Linked DNA regions of Homo sapiens: region 1 is linked to region 2. Evidence: fine-mapped expression QTL. Tissue or cell type: lung. Region 2 holds a variant in brackets; the other region holds the start of a gene. All regions are shown on one strand. Distances are between the middles of the regions.

Region 1 (8,549 bases), 32 kb after region 2:
GAAATCCCTAGATTGAAACACTAATCCCACAACACCTGATATGCTTTGGCTGTGTTCCCACCCAAATCTCAACTTGAAATGTATCTCCCAGAATTCCCACGTGTTGTGGGAGGGACTTAGAAGGAGGTAACTGAATCATGGGGGCCAGACTCTCCCGTGCCATTCTCGTGATAATGAATAAAATCTCATGAGATCTGATGGGTTTATCAGGAGTTTCCACTTTTGCTTCTTCCTCATTTTCTATTGCCACCACCATGTAAGAAGTGCCTTTTGTCTCCCGCCATGATTCTCAGGCCTCCCTAGCCATGTGGAACTGTAAGTCCAATTAAACCTCTTTTTCTTCCCAGTCTTGGGTATGTCTTTATCAGCAGTGTGAAAACAGACTAATATAACACCCCAATTTCATTCTGAGCCTAAACAGCAAACAGGCAACCTCTTCTTAGACATTTCCAGATAAATTCATTTACATTAAAAATAATAAAGATTATATTCTTATTTTACTAGCTTTTATTAATCATCAACCTCATATCTAATATTGCACAAAATGCAACAAATGTAAGAGACAGCCCTTGTTTTCAAACACGGCAAAGACTGCCAGTTGTCCACCAAAATCTATCCTCTCCTTCCTGGGCACAATTGTTCAGCTATATCAGACAGATGGCCACATGCCCTAAAACATGACAAAATGATACAACAGAAAAATCTCATCCCTGGAGTGACCATGTGGAGCAAAGCCTCATCACCAACCTGCATCACTCGCCTTGGAATTGTTAAATGGAAAGAAATAAAACCTTTACTCTTTAATCTACATCACTGTTGGGTTTTTTCATTACAGCAACTTTACCATTACAAGTATATCAAGAGATTTCCAGGCCAGTGACTTTCCAATACACTGTGACCTTGCAGATCCACTCATTTCTGAAGGCTTCCTATGCCTTGACTTACCATAACGTAGTTCATTCCTTAAAGATTTTAACACTTAACTGGCTTCCTTTTTCTGCAACTCTCAGTTCCTTAACTTTGTCATTTCCAATAACCTTGTCCTCCAACCCACTATTCTCATAGTTATACCGCAGAACAGTAGTTCTCAAATGGTTTGGTCTCAGGATCCCTTCACACTTTTTAAAATTACTGAGAATCCCAAAGAGCTTTGGTTTATGTGGATTTTATCTATTGACATATACCACATCATAAATTAAAAAGAATAGGTTTTTAAAATATTACTTCTTTTTAAAAGTAACAAACTCATTACTTGTTAACATAAATAACATGTTTTAATGAAAAATAACTATATTTTTCCCCCCAAACAGCTGAATTCTTCTATCTGCTTATGCATTCAAACAGTTGTGGCTGAAGTACAAAAAGAAACTCTGGCCTCACACAAATATGTACACTGGAAAAGAAAGGAGTATTTTAATAGCCTTTTTGGAGAATTATGGATATCATTCTCTGATATTACACTAGAACAACAACTCTTAAAGGGTAGTTGCAACATGAAATCTGAAATCGTATCAAGGAATATGATTGATATGATGCCTCTTTTCTTCCTTGGTTACATTAAAATCTATTGCTCTATCTTGCACTTCAAATGGATGTTTTACTCATGCATTGGTCATCTGGAGAATACCAGTTCAGTGAGTTATTTACATCTTCTAAATGTTCACACATTTAACATGCAATATCAAAAAATCATATTCATTAAAAGTCTTTAGGTATTGAAGAAAATCTCACCAAAAAAAGTCTTTTAAAAAGCTTCCAACCTCACAAAAGCTAGTAAAAGTTTTCCAAAATTCTAATTTTTGTGTGAAAGCTTGAATTTTATCACTGGCAACAAATACTGTCATTTTCATTTGTAGTGAGTCTCACTTTTCTCCTTTTTGAGAAAATGTCTGCCAACTACCCAAATGTGAATGACTACAATTTTTTCAAGTAAAAAATGCTGTTCCATGAAAAAAAGCAACTAGTTCACTTTACAATCCAATTTGCACAAGAGCTTTTCCTCAAGACAACCCTCTAATTTCAGTTTGCAGAAGTGTTTGATCAAAACTTCCCATGTCATTGAACAGCATATTAAAAGATATATTCAAGGGTTGAGATTTGGTTAAAATTAACGATTTTACTGCTTTATCAACATTTTTAAGTGAAGCTGGCTTTTTAAAAAAACTATAGGTGTAGTATAGTTCAGTGCCACTGTCTTGATTCAAGCTAAGATACTAGCAATACTAAACAGTGCTTTTCCACCATCAATGCGTGTGTCAACAGACTGAAAAAAAAAAAAAACAAATATCTTAGTGTTCATAGAAAGTAGTTTTGGCCTTGCAGAGCCCCTGAAAGGACTTCAGGAATCCCCAGGGTTCCATTCACCACACTTTGAAAACCAATGCTACAGAACAACGGCACCCTCTTTGCATCTCAATTCCAAGCATGAAATTCTCTAACCATTACCTCCTCCCTAACTTACTCCAAGTCTCCCCTTGCAACACCCTAGTTCCCTTCTCAGTTCCTCTACACTCATAGATAACAATCCCAACCCTAGTTAAATCCTATTTGACTTCTATCAGAAGCAGGTGAATATGGCTAGAGAAAAAGCATCACCGTCCTTGCTGGTTCATATGAGGTGGACACTTACTACCACGTTTCCCTGGTCAATTCTCTCATTCTTCCAGAGTCTAAGACCTAAGATTTAGATGATCATTTCACTTCTTCTCCTCTGGCTTTAAAACTCTAACAACTCTTCCTCCTTAACACTCTGCTGATGACCTTATTTCACTATAAAAACAGTAAACATACTTCCTGCTGACAGGCCTGAAAAGAACATCCTCCTATTATCTCTATTAACTTACTTGCAAATATACCTCATTCTCTGCCTTCCCTTAGGAAGAACTGACAGTCTATGTTTCTAAGGCCAACTCCTTCACTTGTGCACTGGATTTCATCCCCTTTGGCTACTCAGGGACAATGCCCTTACAGTTTTCTCACTCTCTCCTGCATTATAAAACGTTCTCACTCTATTGTATCATTTCCTAGAATATACAAACATGCTGTAATACTTCCTCTCTTAAAGAGGAAAAAATATGGTGCCAGATCTCCCAGCAACCACATCTTTTTTTTGCTCCCCTTTACAGCTAAACCCCAAGAATACCCTATAAGTGCTATTTTCAATTCCACTCCTCCCATTCTTTCCTAAATTCACTCTAATCCTGATCTCTCCACTAAAACTCCTCTTGTCAAGATCACCAGTGACCTCTTCCTTGCCAAATCCAAAGGGCAATTCTCAGTTATCTTACTCAAACAGCTGCATTTGACCCAGCTGACCACATCCTCCTTGAAATACTTCACTTGGCCTCTGGTATTTAAGGGGGGGGGGGGGGCGGGGGAAGGCAAAAACTGTTTGACACCTAGGGCGAAGTATCTTAGTGCTATGATACACAGATCTAATTGTGTGGTTTATGGGGGGCACCAAGATGTTAAATTCCGTTTTAGACCTCAAGTTTGAAAGAATAATAATACATCTCAGTAGAAATTGAATCATAAGGATAGCATTCAATTTCCTTACACAACACTTGGTGGATGACCAACATTTTTAAGGAGCTTCATCCAGTTCAGTGGAGCAATGTTCGTCAAGCCATGACCTATAGAAAAGAGTTTAGGATGCACGTACAGGCCTGAGACTTGAACTTGCTTCTAATAATGAGGCAGTGACCAGCAAGGCTGACTTGTGAAGTGAAAGAACAAAAAATAATAATACTCAGATTGACGATGATAGTAACAGTCATGGTGGTATATATTTACTACTCATTTACTTCAGGGAATGCGCCCTGTTAAACACTATACACGCCCTTTAGTATATAATCCTCATACACTTTTATGAAACAGGCGCGATCATCTCCATTTTACATACGGGGTAGAGAGGAGCTAGCTAAAATCAGTTATTAAAGAGGAGAGCTAAGATTTGGGGATAGGGCGGTTGAGGTTCCAAAGCTCAAGTTTTCTAAGCAAAATTTTTGTACTGTTTCTTGCAAGGAAAATCAGGAAACTTCAATTGAATACGTGCCAATTTAAAAAAAAATACAGATTAAGAAGTTTTCTCAGAGTAACAATACATGCTTATTAGGCACTTTCCTATGCATAATTTCCTATTTAATGGCAATTACATGATTGTCTTCTTTTTTGGGACACACGTTTTCTCCTACGTCTGAACATGTGCACTGCCTTTAACATGAAGCTGGCAGGCTATAAAACTTTACCACAGGAGCTGAAATCGTATTCGGGTTCTCCACTTGCTTATTTCCATTATCTCCACTTCCATTATTTCATCACACACCTGAACGGAAAACCCCAGTACAGGCCCGGGGCTGCCTCAGTCTACTTCGGCAGCAAAAGACGAATAAGCCCACTGGCAGAGACCACTGTGCAAGCCTAATCACTTCCCAAGAAGGGTTTTGCTTTAAAGGTACGAAGCAGGTAGGAAAGGTGGGGCTTATCGCCTTGCCAAAAACGTTCTCCTCAAGAAGAACCCAGTTCCAGGTGGAAAAGGTATCCTGAAAATCAGGTTAACCTCAAACTTAAATCCAAGCCTAACCACCTGCCCAGCCCGCCCCAGCCCAACCTGACGGAAGCTTGTCAGGGAAGAGTCCATAGAAGGCGTCACCTTTAGGAGACATCCTCTGTCATAGTGCTCGCAGCCCCGCTGACCTCGCTCTTGACCGCTGGCGCCATCTTCCCGGGCCGTCGCCGCCATCTCCTCCACCTCCCCTCACATTCCACCGATCCTTCCCCCAGGATAAAAACCACGCCCAGAGAAGCTGCGCCTCTCTAGCACACCCCTCCCAGCCCCAGCGGCCACTAGCGACAATATGGCTCCTAAGCACGTGACCCGGGGCAGACGGATTTCCGGTTCCCGGGGCTACGAGGCGGAAGCGAAGGCAGACGCAGTCTCCGTCGTTGACGTTAGTCGCAGTCTTCGCTGCTAACGGTAATAACTCTTAGGTTGCCTGTTTTCCCCCAATCGCTACCCGCCCAAATCTCAGGGCGTAGTTCGGCGCGAGGTTGGCGGCAGCGGCGCGGAGACGCTGGTTGGCCCCAGAGGAAAGGACGCTCACTGGGCGCATCGTTACCTGTGACGGGTCCTCCCTCTCTCCCTCCGGTGGCGGGGAGCCTGGAGAAAGGGGCGGAGCTCGGCCCGGGCCCTGGGCTCAGCGGGTCCCGCGCGCTGCTCTTGGACGCCAGGGTGCTCGCTGGCACCTCGAAGTGCTTCTTGCTTCCTCCCTTTCCCGTTTACTTGCTGTTCTTTCAAAATATGTACTGACATTCACTATTGCCAGTCACCAGCTAAACCGTGAGGACAAAAAGTAAGGAAAAATAGACACACTCCACCATGACCTCATGGAACTAACAAGACTGGTGGAGGAGGAAGACATTAATAAGAGCAATCACTGCAATAAATGTAAGATTACAACCTGGAGAAGTGCTAGGAAGAAGTGTGTGTCCTGTGAGAGCTAATATTAGAGCAGCTCTGACAATCTGAGTGTCAGTGAGGGAAGGCTTCCCTGGGGAAGCGATGCAAGCCGAGGGCTGAAAGATGGGTAGGAGTTAGTGTGCAAAAGGCTTTGTGGCACAAAGAACATGGTACCTGTTAGAAGGTGGAAGGAAAATGTACAAGCCAACAAAATTGAAATCATACTCGGGGTACACAGCTAAATATGTTTCTCCTTATTAAAGAGTCAAGGCCCTGGAAAATGATGTAAGCAAAGCTGCAGGTGTTAGAAGAAGATATTTGTCTTTAGCTTTCTATCCTGATTTTGTGTTTCCTAAAACACCGGGAAAGGGAAAATATTCCCCTTCAGCTTTCCGGTTACTAACTCTTAACATTCTAATTTTCTTTCAGTTTTGTTATGAGTTGCTAAAATGGTGAAATGCTGCTCCGCCATTGGATGTGCTTCTCGCTGCTTGCCAAATTCGAAGTTAAAAGGACTGACATTTCACGTGTAAGATTTTGCTGTAGTTAAGCCAAATACTTTGGCCATGTTATAAAAAGCAAAAGACAGTTCTACTTAAGTCTTCAATTTTGAACTTTAGTTCCCGAGTCCTTTTTAAATAACCTTTTTGTTAAATTTGAAGTGACAATGTGATACCTTTACATGTTTATAATTTAGTTTAAAAGTTTTAAGATATCAGAGACTTTAAGATATCAGAGACTGGTTTACAAAAAATACCATAAGGCTAACTTTTGCTAATATTATTACTTTGTATTTTATCACACCGCCAAAGAAATTCAATGTTGTTTACATGTAGTTTACAATCTGAATGAAGGAGCTTTGCTCGAATATATTGCCCTCTCTATTTAGAAGTAGATCAAGCATAGGTTATAGAGAAAAAATACAAATTACAAGTTAAGACCAAGGGATCTTTAGCTGTGTTGCAAATAAATCAAAATGATTTTAGTTTCATATTTTAGCCATTCTCTTGACAGCCATGAAGGAGTAAGTGAAGGAGTAATAAGATTTAATAGTTGTTCACTTGTTAAAGGTTTATTTTGCTGCTTTTGTGCCAGGCACTGTCCTATGTGTTAGAGAAAGATCTCCTAGCTATTTTGTTAGATATAATAAATCAAAACTGAGCATATATATCCTACCTTATTTTAGAAAAATTTGAACCAGCTTGAAAATTGAGTAAGATATGGCTATTAGGCCTTCATATCTCTCAAAATAGCTCTGATCTCCAGAACTCCACACTGCAGCTATTCTCTGCATTCATTCACTAAGCATCTGTAGACCTGCTATGTATTAAATGCTGTACTAAGCAATTTTCTGGTGCTGACAGAAGAATGGAATTACAAGGGGCCCTTTTTATCGAGGATAAATTCTGGATATCATTTCAGATAGGAAAAGGCCCAAGTGATAATTCTTTTATCATCTATAGATGAATAAATACCTTCAATTGTGGATCTTACTATAAGATGCTAAATATCCATTGAAACTTTTCTTCCTTATAATGTGAGAAAAAATGAAATGAGGGCCATATATCTGCAGCATGATTGGCAGAAAATCTGAATATTAAAACGGAAAGTAACAAAAGCATGAATTATGGTTTCCTAAATATTATAATTCTCAAGACTAATAAACTAGTTAACGAATCAATTTAGTCACAGTTGTATAAGGCAGCTTTAATTCAATTATATAGCAATAGTATTTGATTTTAAAATATTTTTTGTATTTTTTTTCTAGATTCCCCACAGATGAAAACATCAAAAGGAAATGGGTATTAGCAATGAAAAGACTTGATGTGAATGCAGCCGGCATTTGGGAGCCTAAAAAAGGAGATGTGTTGTGTTCGAGGCACTTTAAGAAGACAGATTTTGACAGAAGTGCTCCAAATATTAAACTGAAACCTGGAGTCATACCTTCTATCTTTGATTCTCCATATCACCTACAGGTTTGTTTATGAGATACTGTTTACCATCATTGCTCACTTTTTTTTTTTTTTTTTTTTGAGATAGAGTCTCGCTCTGTCACCAAGGCTGGAGTGCAGTGGCGCGATCTCAGCTCACTGCAATCTCTGCCTCCAGGGTTTAAGCAATTCTCTGCCTCAGCCTCCCGAGAAGCTGGGATTACAGGCACCTGCCACCACACCTGGCTAATTTTTGTATTTTTAGGAGAGATGGCGTTTCACCATCTTGGCCAGGCTGGTCTTGAACTCCTGACCTCGTGATCCACCCTCCTCGGCGTCCCAAAGTGCTGGGATTACAGGCATGAGCCACCGTGCCTGGCCATTGCTCACTTTTTATGATACTATTGAAGAACCTTCACCACTCTTGCTAACATTTTTATTGTTTGCTTATTCATTTGAAGTCTGTTCTTGAAGTTTTAAATTTGTAGACTGCATCTTCAACTTTTGTAATGTGTAGTAGGAGTATTTTACCAGTAACCACTCATAAATATTTGTATATTACTAAGGTTTGATGAAGTGGGCTGACTTTAGGAATTAGCATAACTGAAGATTTTTGTCTAAAAATGGAAGTTAACGTAAGAAGGTTGAACTGATGTTCCAAGTTGGCAGTCCTTAACACTGGGGCAGAAGTCAGGAGTAGAACCACTAACAGGACTAAAGTACTTGTAAGAGCCACATACATGCAAGCATAAAGTCTAGGTAGGATCAAAAGGAAGAAAACCAAAAAAGAGATCTAAGAACAGGAGAAGAAAAGGTCAGGAAAAGAAAGAACAGTCAAATAAGTAAACGCTAATTGAATTCCATGTTTTTTCTGGGTAATATTCCCATGGGTTGGCTGCCTCACCCTCAGTATCTCTCTTGACTTTGTATACCTGAAAGTGAATTTCTAGAACCTATAGACATTGATTGATTGATTCCAATGTGGAAAATTCAGGGAGAGCCTCCATTGAAAGGGATCTCCTTCCTGGCAACTAAAAACAAGAGAAGTAGCCAAAAGCGTACCCGCTCCCATGCAGTCCTGGTCACTTTCTGCAGTTGGTCATATTGTAGAACCTGAGTGATCAGGTAGAGAATGCCTCACTTTCTTCGGTGCTAATAAA
Region 2 (8,549 bases):
AATAAACTCATCTGCTCCTCAAGCTGGACTTGTCCCAGTCATTCTTTGGTCTCTCGGCTCCTTCCCACTTTGAGTTGGAACATTATAGTCCCAGGTTTTTCTCATAACAACCCCTATCAAAATTCCAATGTCATTTTTCACAAAAATAGAAATAACAATACCATAATTTGTATGGTACCAGAGAAGACCTGAATAGCCAAAGCAATCTTAAACATAAAGAACAAAGTTGGAGGCATCACACTACCTGACTTCAAAATCTATTATAAAACAATAGTAATCAAAACAGCATGATACTGGCATAAAAACAGATATGTTGACTAGTGGAACAGGAGAGCCCAGAAATAAACCAACACACCTATAGTCAATTGGCTTTCAATAAATATGCCAACACTACACAATGAAGCCAGTCTCTTCAATAAATGGTGTTGGTAAAACTGAATATACACATGCAGAAGAATGAAACTGGATCCTTATCTCACACCACATATAAAAATCAACTCAAAATGGTTTAAAGACTTAAACATAAGACCTGAAACTATAAAACTACATGAACAAAACACAGGGGAAATGCTCCATAACACTGGTATGGGCAAAGATTTCTTGGATATAACCCCAAGAACACAGACAACAAAAAATACATGGCGCTGCATCAAACTAAAAAGCTTCTGCATAGTGAAGTGAATGATAGAATGAAGAGACAACCCATGAATTCGAAGAAAATATTTATAAATCATACATCTGATAAGGGGCTAATATCCAAAATACATAAGGTACTGAAGCCACTAATAAGAAAATGAACTCAATTAAAACATGGGCAAAGGATGTAAACAGATATTCCTAAAAAAGACACAAATGGCCAACAAATATATGAAAAGATGCTCATCATCACTAATCAGAAAAATGCAAATTAACACAAGGTATCACCTTACACCTGTTAGAATTACTATTATCAAAATGATAAAAGTGTTGACAGGGTGTAGAAAAAAGGGAACACTTGTGCACTGACGTTGGGAATGTAAATTAAAACAGCCAATATTAAAATCAGCATGGAGACAGAAAACTAAAAATAGAATTACCATATGATCCAGCAATCCCACTTCTGGACATATAGCTAAAGGAACTGAAGTCAGTGTGTCAAAGAGGTATCTGTACCACCACGTTCACTGCAGCATTATTCACAACAGCTAAGATATGGAAGCAATCTTAATGTCCATCATCATATGAATGAAAACAAAATGTGGCATATATACTCAATGGAATACTATTCAGCCCTATAAAAGAAAGAAATCCTGTCACTTGTGACAGGAACCTGGAAGACATTATACTAAATGAAATAACCCAGGCACAAAAAGGTAAATACTATGTGATCTCAGCTATCTGTGCAATCTAAAAAAAAGGTGAATTCATAGAAGTAGAATGGTGGTTACCAGAGGCTGGGAGAGAGAAGTGGATGGGAAAAGGGGAGATGCTGATCAAAGGGTACAAAATATCAGTTAGACAAGAGGAATAAACTTTACTGATCTATTACACAGAATGGTGAGTATAATAAATAATGCATTGTACATTTCAAAAATATTAAGAGTAGATTTTAAGTGGTTTTTTTACCACAAAAAATGGTATGAGGCAATAAATTTATTACATTGATTTAATCATTCTACACTGTAAACATATATCAAAACATCACATTGTACTCCATATATATAATATACACAATTATCAATTAAATTTTAATAACACAAAGGACAAAAGAAAAAGTGGCATAGTTTTGAACAACTCCCATTTAAAATTAATTCATTTCAAATTAAACTATTCAACTAGTGAATACCTATTGCCAGGCACTTATAAAATAATGTTGGCTCTTTAGTACTTAGTAAATTTATTTTGATGCATGACCAAAATAAAAGGGAAATTTAACATGTATATCATATGAAAATAGGTTTTAGTGAAGAAATAAAAACTGAGTTTGATTTTAAAATCCATGACACTATAAACAAACTACTACTTCCAACATAAGCTAAAGTTAATTCATAAAGAGTTCTATGTACTGGTTAAGAAGACCCCAGAAACTAAGAAATGAACAACTTGATATACACTCATTTTTTTTTTATACATACATCTTTAATGATAAAAGAAGCTGAGATGCTATGCACCAAAAAATTCGTAAGGGTATTGTTATTTTACTTTTTTCAAAAATAATCCAAATAAACTATAGATACAAATTCTGCGGCAGGGCAACCTAACTTATTTCAGGGACAGATAATTCTAGTGTACTTAAGATCTGTCTAAGTATTTAACATTCCTGTAAGCATTATAAAAAAGAATAGGAAAAGAATGAAGTTGTCTGTTAAAATGTTAACAGTAGTTCTCTCTGAAAGAAGGGATTGTTGAGAGTTTTTTACCTTCTTTCTTATAGAGGTATAACCTATACTTATGAAGTCAGAGAAAGAAAAAATATTTAAGGGTAAAGTTATGTATTTTAAGTTTTGCATACTGAATGGTAAGGGATGTAGATTTTATTCTTATTGTGAATGAGAAGTGTTGAAGGATTTTAATCATCGAGTTGACGTGTCATGAACAAATACTTGAAGCAACCCTGGGTACCGAAGCCTAGAGACTTTGAGTACATTTGAAAATTGCTTTAAGTGCATGACTAGACAGCATAAACGAGTGATTGCATATGTACTCTGCATTATTTTGGACATGTTTGGATCCTAAGTTAAAGAAACAATCAGATTGTGAAATAAGACTTTCTAACTAGAGTCACCTAAAAAAATGAAAGGTTAATCTATCAAATCATGAGCGCTTCAATGATATGGATGACTAGCTGTGAGGGGTATTTTAGCAAAATAGAAGTTTAGATCAAAAGCAATGTGGTAAAAGTGGGTTTGGAGTCAAACTTGGATCTGATTCCCAACTCCAACATATAGTGTCTGTTATTTACCCCCAATGTGTCATTTTAACCTCTAAACCTCAGCTTTCTTGTCTATGAGGACAACACTTACCCCACAGAATCATTGTAGTAATTAATGCTAATGCATGACCCAGCACAGATGTTGAAAACAGAAGAGCCTTATTATTATATACTCACTCCTATTTAAAGATCCAATGATTCAATGATTAAAAACAATAACATGATTGGTTTGGCAGAATAATACCAAACATAAAAAGTAATACATCTGGACCAAGCACAGTGGCTCATGCCTGTAATCCTAGCCCTTGGAAGGCCGAGGTAGGAGAAATGCTTGAGCCCAGGAGTTCAAGACCAGCCTGGACTTTGTTTCTACAAAACAATTAAAAATTAGCTGGGCATGGTGGCACACACCTGTAGTCCCAGCTACTCAGGAGGCTGAGGTGGAAGGATCAGTTCAGCCCAGGAAGTCAAGGCTGCAGTGAGCTACGATCACTTCACTACACTCTAGCCTAAATGACAGAGCAAAACCACTTCAAAAAAAAGTATTAGATCTGGAAAACTAGTCTTTACTTATCTGTATACTAATTGGTAATACCCAGGAACATCCTTTCCCAAATGAAGATCAGCACTGCTGCTCTGGCCAGGCCAAGGAAACAGATGAAGGGAAAGAACATAAGAAGAGTGGAATACAGAAGACAAGAAGGTGGGATAAAATAAAGATCTGAGTCCCAAACTGCTGCCTTTATCTAGGTGAATAAATTTCAACAAAAGAAGAAATAAATGTGCCAGAACTCTTAGGCTTTCTAGTTAAAAGGCTAACTTCCTTATTCAAAGAAGATTCAAATAGCTCAAAGTTGGAAATACAACTGGTGCTCAATAGGTACTTATCAACTGATAAATGTACATTTTACATCCTAGCCTAATGGTAAAGCTATTACGGAGATAACAGTGTCAAAGTCGGCTGGATCATCAAACATATTTGTTAACTTTGTTCCTGAAGTAAGAGGTATATTTAATTCCACTACATGAGCCCAAAAAAGTATTATGAAATCAGAGATCTTGCCAGGAATATCCCATGCCCTTCCCACTCATCCATCCCCTATTTTCACACGCTTAGGGAAGAAATATTCTATTCATTTACAATAAGACATCCACTCCTTGCATAAAGAAAAATGAGTACATTGATCAAATATGATGAACAATAGAATGTACTGCTGTGAGGACAAGGACTTTTATCTTTATTGTTCACTGTTGTCTCTACAGCATCTAGAAACATATCTGCCACATAGCAGTTGCTCAATAAATACTTGCTAAATGAAGGAATGAATGACTCTTTGAAGAAATAATTTTGGGCAACCTAAAAAAAACTGTTTTCAATGTTGATGTTTTTATTAAGGCTTTGGAAGAGTCTTATTATTTTACATAATAATTTTCCCAACTACTTTTATGGAATACCTCAAAAGAAAGAAAATTTCTTTTACATTATAGAACTGATGATACTGCCCTAATTGAGCCAAACATAGAAAACTTTGGAAAAAACTTTCTATAAAACAG[T/C]TTCAATATAATTTTATTAGCAGTTATTACATCAAAATTCACATTTAGAGGATCCAGAGGACTGTCTTAGAAAATTCTAAAGCATATTTAATTAGGTTTTAACAGTAAGGGAGAACTTAATATAACACAGCCCTTAAAAAGTCAAGACTACTACTGAAAATTAAGTGCAGTTCTATCAAGAACTAGAAATGAACTGCACGCGTAGTGTCACTTAAAGCAAAGCTTCATGAAAATATAATACACTTCTATGAATGTATCAGTGGCAAACATCATTGGCTTCCAAAAAACTGACACTAAAGGAATTTCCAATCAAAACACAAGCACAGTGGCTTTCATTCAATATAGAGCTATGATAAGTCTATCAAGAGACCCTGAATCCTTACGTACTTGTAATATGATTTTATGCTGTGACACTAGTACAAAACACATCAACTCTAATGCATAGATGACGACACATGATAACACGATACCAAGGAAAGCCTTTTTCTATATCAGAAAATGCCAAGTTCTCCAGTACTGTGTAGGCTCGTCATTGCTGATCCAGTGAAATTCTACGTCCTCCAGCTTGAGCAGTATTATAGGATTCACAAATCTTACATTTCATGCCTAATATATGAAACTGAACAGTGGATCGTCCATTACAGTCATTGCAGAGAATCTGAAAAGAGATTAATTCAAATTAAGTATTTTAAACCTTATAAATACAAGTAGCATTGTCTACTCATAATCCCTTGAAAATCATATTAAAGATGTGAAAATACATACATAAGTCTAAAAATTTCCAAAAGTAGAAATTTCTTCTTATTTTTTCACTGAAAACTCTAAAAAGCTATTAAGGTGGCTCTGAATTCAGAAAATGAAAAGGCAGATTTGAGCAAAAAAAAAGCTTATTTTAAAATAGTTTCCAAATATTAAATAGTATAAATAGTACAAGCAAGAAAATTAACCTAGGCATAATCAGATGAATACCTGATACTTATAATTCAAAATAACAACATGATTTCATTATTTTTCAGTCAGAAATGTATCTCAATTAATAAAACCAAAATTTTTACACAAATAATATTTTTGCTTATTTTTTAGGTTTAGTATACTGTTCCCTGTCTTCTCTGCCTTAGGAATGAATTAAATTCCAAAAAGAGTGTTCCTAAAATTGAGTAAACAGAGAGGCTCTTCGCTCATCCCTACAATAACAATAAGATGCCGTTTAAGAATTAATTTCTTCTAGTGCTAAGTAAGAACCTGAAAAATAACAAAGGTGTTAACCTGAAAATCAATACATTACTATGCAAGAAAAGCACTAGTTTTTGAATAGTCACACTATAATAAGCAGAAAATTTCCAAATTTGCTCTAAATTATAATTTGGAAAATAATTATTTAAAAAATATGATCTAAATGGAGAAAGTGGATTAGTGGTTGCCTAGGCCTGGGGCGTTAGGGAATGACTGCTAATGGGTATGAGTGTTTCCTTTTTGGGATGATAAAAATGTTCTAAAATTGTGGTGATGTTTGCATAACTACATGAATATTTTAAAAAGCACCAAATTGTACAATTTAAATGAATGAACTATATAATATGTGAATTGTATCTTAATGAAGCCATTATTTCCAAAAATTATCTACATGGAACATAGCACACTTCGGCCTCTAGTCAATCACATGATTATCGGTTAGTATTCCAAAAGTGATTTTTCATTGCCCTAACAATTATCCACATGAATTATGAAACACTCCAGTGTAAATAAAACAAAAAATAATTTTCATTTGGCTTTGCTACGTGGTTTTTATCCTCGTATGCTGAAGTATCTGAAGATGTTCAGAAAATGTGTAATATAACCAAAAATTATCTAGCCAGAATACTAGGCTTTCCCATTCTAATCTAAAACTCAATACCATGTATGGCTGAGAAGAGACAGCAACACATCTTAATTAAACGAAAAAAGATGATCACTCTCCATAAGCCAAAAGGCACAGAAACAACCTTTTATGCTTTAGGTTGCAAGCTAATTGCAACCAAATAAAGAAAGTCAAGACCCTCTGAATCTATTCTGGTTCAGGGCTGCCTGATTCACAAACTGTTTCTCAATTAAGTTCTGTTAAATTTAATTTGTGTAAGGTTTTGCTTCAAACAGCTGGCATCAGAAGTGGGATTTGAAGTACAGCTTTCAGTGACCGCCAGGAGCACCAAGGGGACCCAGTAAGGTACCGTTAGGCCCTTTGTGTCCACTGCTCTCTTGCAGCCATTAGGAATCATGGTAAGTTCTCAGATTCTAAAGCTCTGCGCATTTGTGTTTTGAGCTATCCAAGTTTTTTTGAACACATTTTCTATCTGAACTGAATTCAGAAGTCGCAACAAAAACTGGACTGGGTCCAGGATCCAACTGCCTTGGATCTAGCTAAAGACCTCTTATGCCTGACTGGGTCGGGCAGAAGCACAGTAAATGGCAAAACAGCAGGGGGTGGGGGTGCAAATTTTGGCTTTTGGAAATTCACAGGGTTTTTTGTGTCCTGCCCTCTTCAATTCTTCTTCTTGCACATTTAAGTAGAGAAAAATCACTGGTTAAGTTTACCAAGGAAATATGAGAGCCAAAGCCAAGATTCAAGGTGAAAATGGGATCCTTAATTTCTGAAGAACTGAGCAATCTACCTTCTGGCTCTGCCTACATTTACAAGTGTAAGTATTAGGCCCCAGAAGCAGCACTTTTTAAACATTTTATAGAAGGATAAAATGCCATTTGCTTATAGAAATGGCAAAACCTTACTAAAAGTAATTTAAAATTATAATGGAACGTCCCAAATGAACACTTAAAACTACACTTTAAGAAGTGCATTTGATGATGGCCATAAGCTGTTAAAAACCAAACCAAAAAAAAAAGTGCATTTGAAAATGAGGGCTCCCAAATTAGACTCATCTAAGAATGCCTATTGAGTGAAGCTTCTAAAAATATTTCAATATTTTTATTGCCTTAAAAAAAAGATGTTTTAAAAGGCAAATAAAAAGCTTAACTAACTGATAAGACAAATTAAATCTACTAGCCTTTTGGCTTAGTTACTATACTGCCCTGAAGGCTAAAAGAAAGCTAGCCTGGATTAAATGTTTATAAAATATAGGCCCTTAGGTAAAGCTGACTTGCCTCTTTTTCAGATCTATCCATACTGTGCCCAGGCATGGACATGGACACTAAGATACTTCTGTTTAATTTCTGAGTAAACTGCAAACAATAAAAAAGAACGCTGTCTTTCCCCTACTGTCTTAGTGGGCTCCACCCTGAACTCAGTAATTTTAGCTAAGAAACAGTAGTTAAATTTTTAAAAACGATCTATGGAACTAAAGTATACCTTTCTGGCATTCAACTGGCTATACTGAAGGCTATCCTGAAACCCTTTTGGTAAAATCAATTTATATCTATAAAGGAAATTTACATTTGTAAAGGTGTCTGTGTACATTAGGAACTCTTATCACTATTTTAAATTTATATAGTAAGTCATACCTTTGTTTAAGGTGACTGGCCATCTTGTCTTAACTTTTACTCACACCATTTTTTCCTTGGTTTGAGCAAATGATGGTACAATATTTACGTCTAAAGTCTTAGCTGTGTGCTTTTGAGATATACATTTTCTACCTTGTTTGACCTAAGAATTGGCCCTTTAGAAATGCATATTTAGGGCTGCCTAGCTAACAATTGCTTAGGGCAATGAAACAGGTTAATTGGTAAACTGATAGTCTGAATGGTGAATAGAAAAACTATTTAAAAGCCAGCAAATGAGAATCCTTTAGGAAAGCTCTAAGATCTGCTTCTGTCTGTGTCTGTATTCCTATAGGTGTTATGTGTATGTGATAACATTTGGTAAATAAAGCCAGTTTTTATATTGTTAGTAAATAGGAATGGCTTCAGAGGTGTCTGTTGAATATAATTCAACACTTGCTTGATTTGACTGTGAGCTTGTTTTGGGTTTTGAACCTCTAGATTCTCAAGTCTGGCTAGGTGAGACCTGGGTACATGTTCTCAGTGCCTAGACCTGTAGCTACAAAGCAGAATCAAGCCCACTAGAGCTTCTTCTTCCCTGTCTTAGCTTTGCCTC

What was found. PIP is the estimated chance that this variant, and not a neighbour inherited with it, causes the effect.
Region 1: RCHY1 starts here. The variant in region 2 is fine-mapped to the expression of RCHY1 in lung (TOPMed, PIP above 0.99). The same link has a PIP of 0.9 or more in fibroblasts, subcutaneous fat and tibial artery.

Annotation. Positions count from the first base shown.
Region 1 is chr4:75,509,546-75,518,094 of GRCh38, forward strand. It overlaps RCHY1 (ring finger and CHY zinc finger domain containing 1), which reads right to left and starts at 4,858. Exons shown (of 9, transcript NM_015436.4): 1 at 4,652-4,858. The coding sequence starts at 4,741. THAP6 (THAP domain containing 6) reads left to right here and starts at 4,928. Exons shown (of 5, transcript NM_144721.6): 1 at 4,928-4,975; 2 at 5,888-5,987; 3 at 7,227-7,434. The coding sequence starts at 5,908. RefSeq lists enhancers at 3,967-4,897, 4,584-5,063, 4,898-5,828, 5,404-5,623.
Region 2 is chr4:75,477,544-75,486,092 of GRCh38, forward strand. It overlaps RCHY1 (ring finger and CHY zinc finger domain containing 1), which reads right to left. Exons shown (of 9, transcript NM_015436.4): 9 at 1,490-5,123. The coding sequence ends at 4,995. Among named protein-coding and RNA genes, the nearest start is that of RCHY1, 33 kb to the right of the region's middle. The variant T/C (reference allele first, on the strand shown) is at 4,466.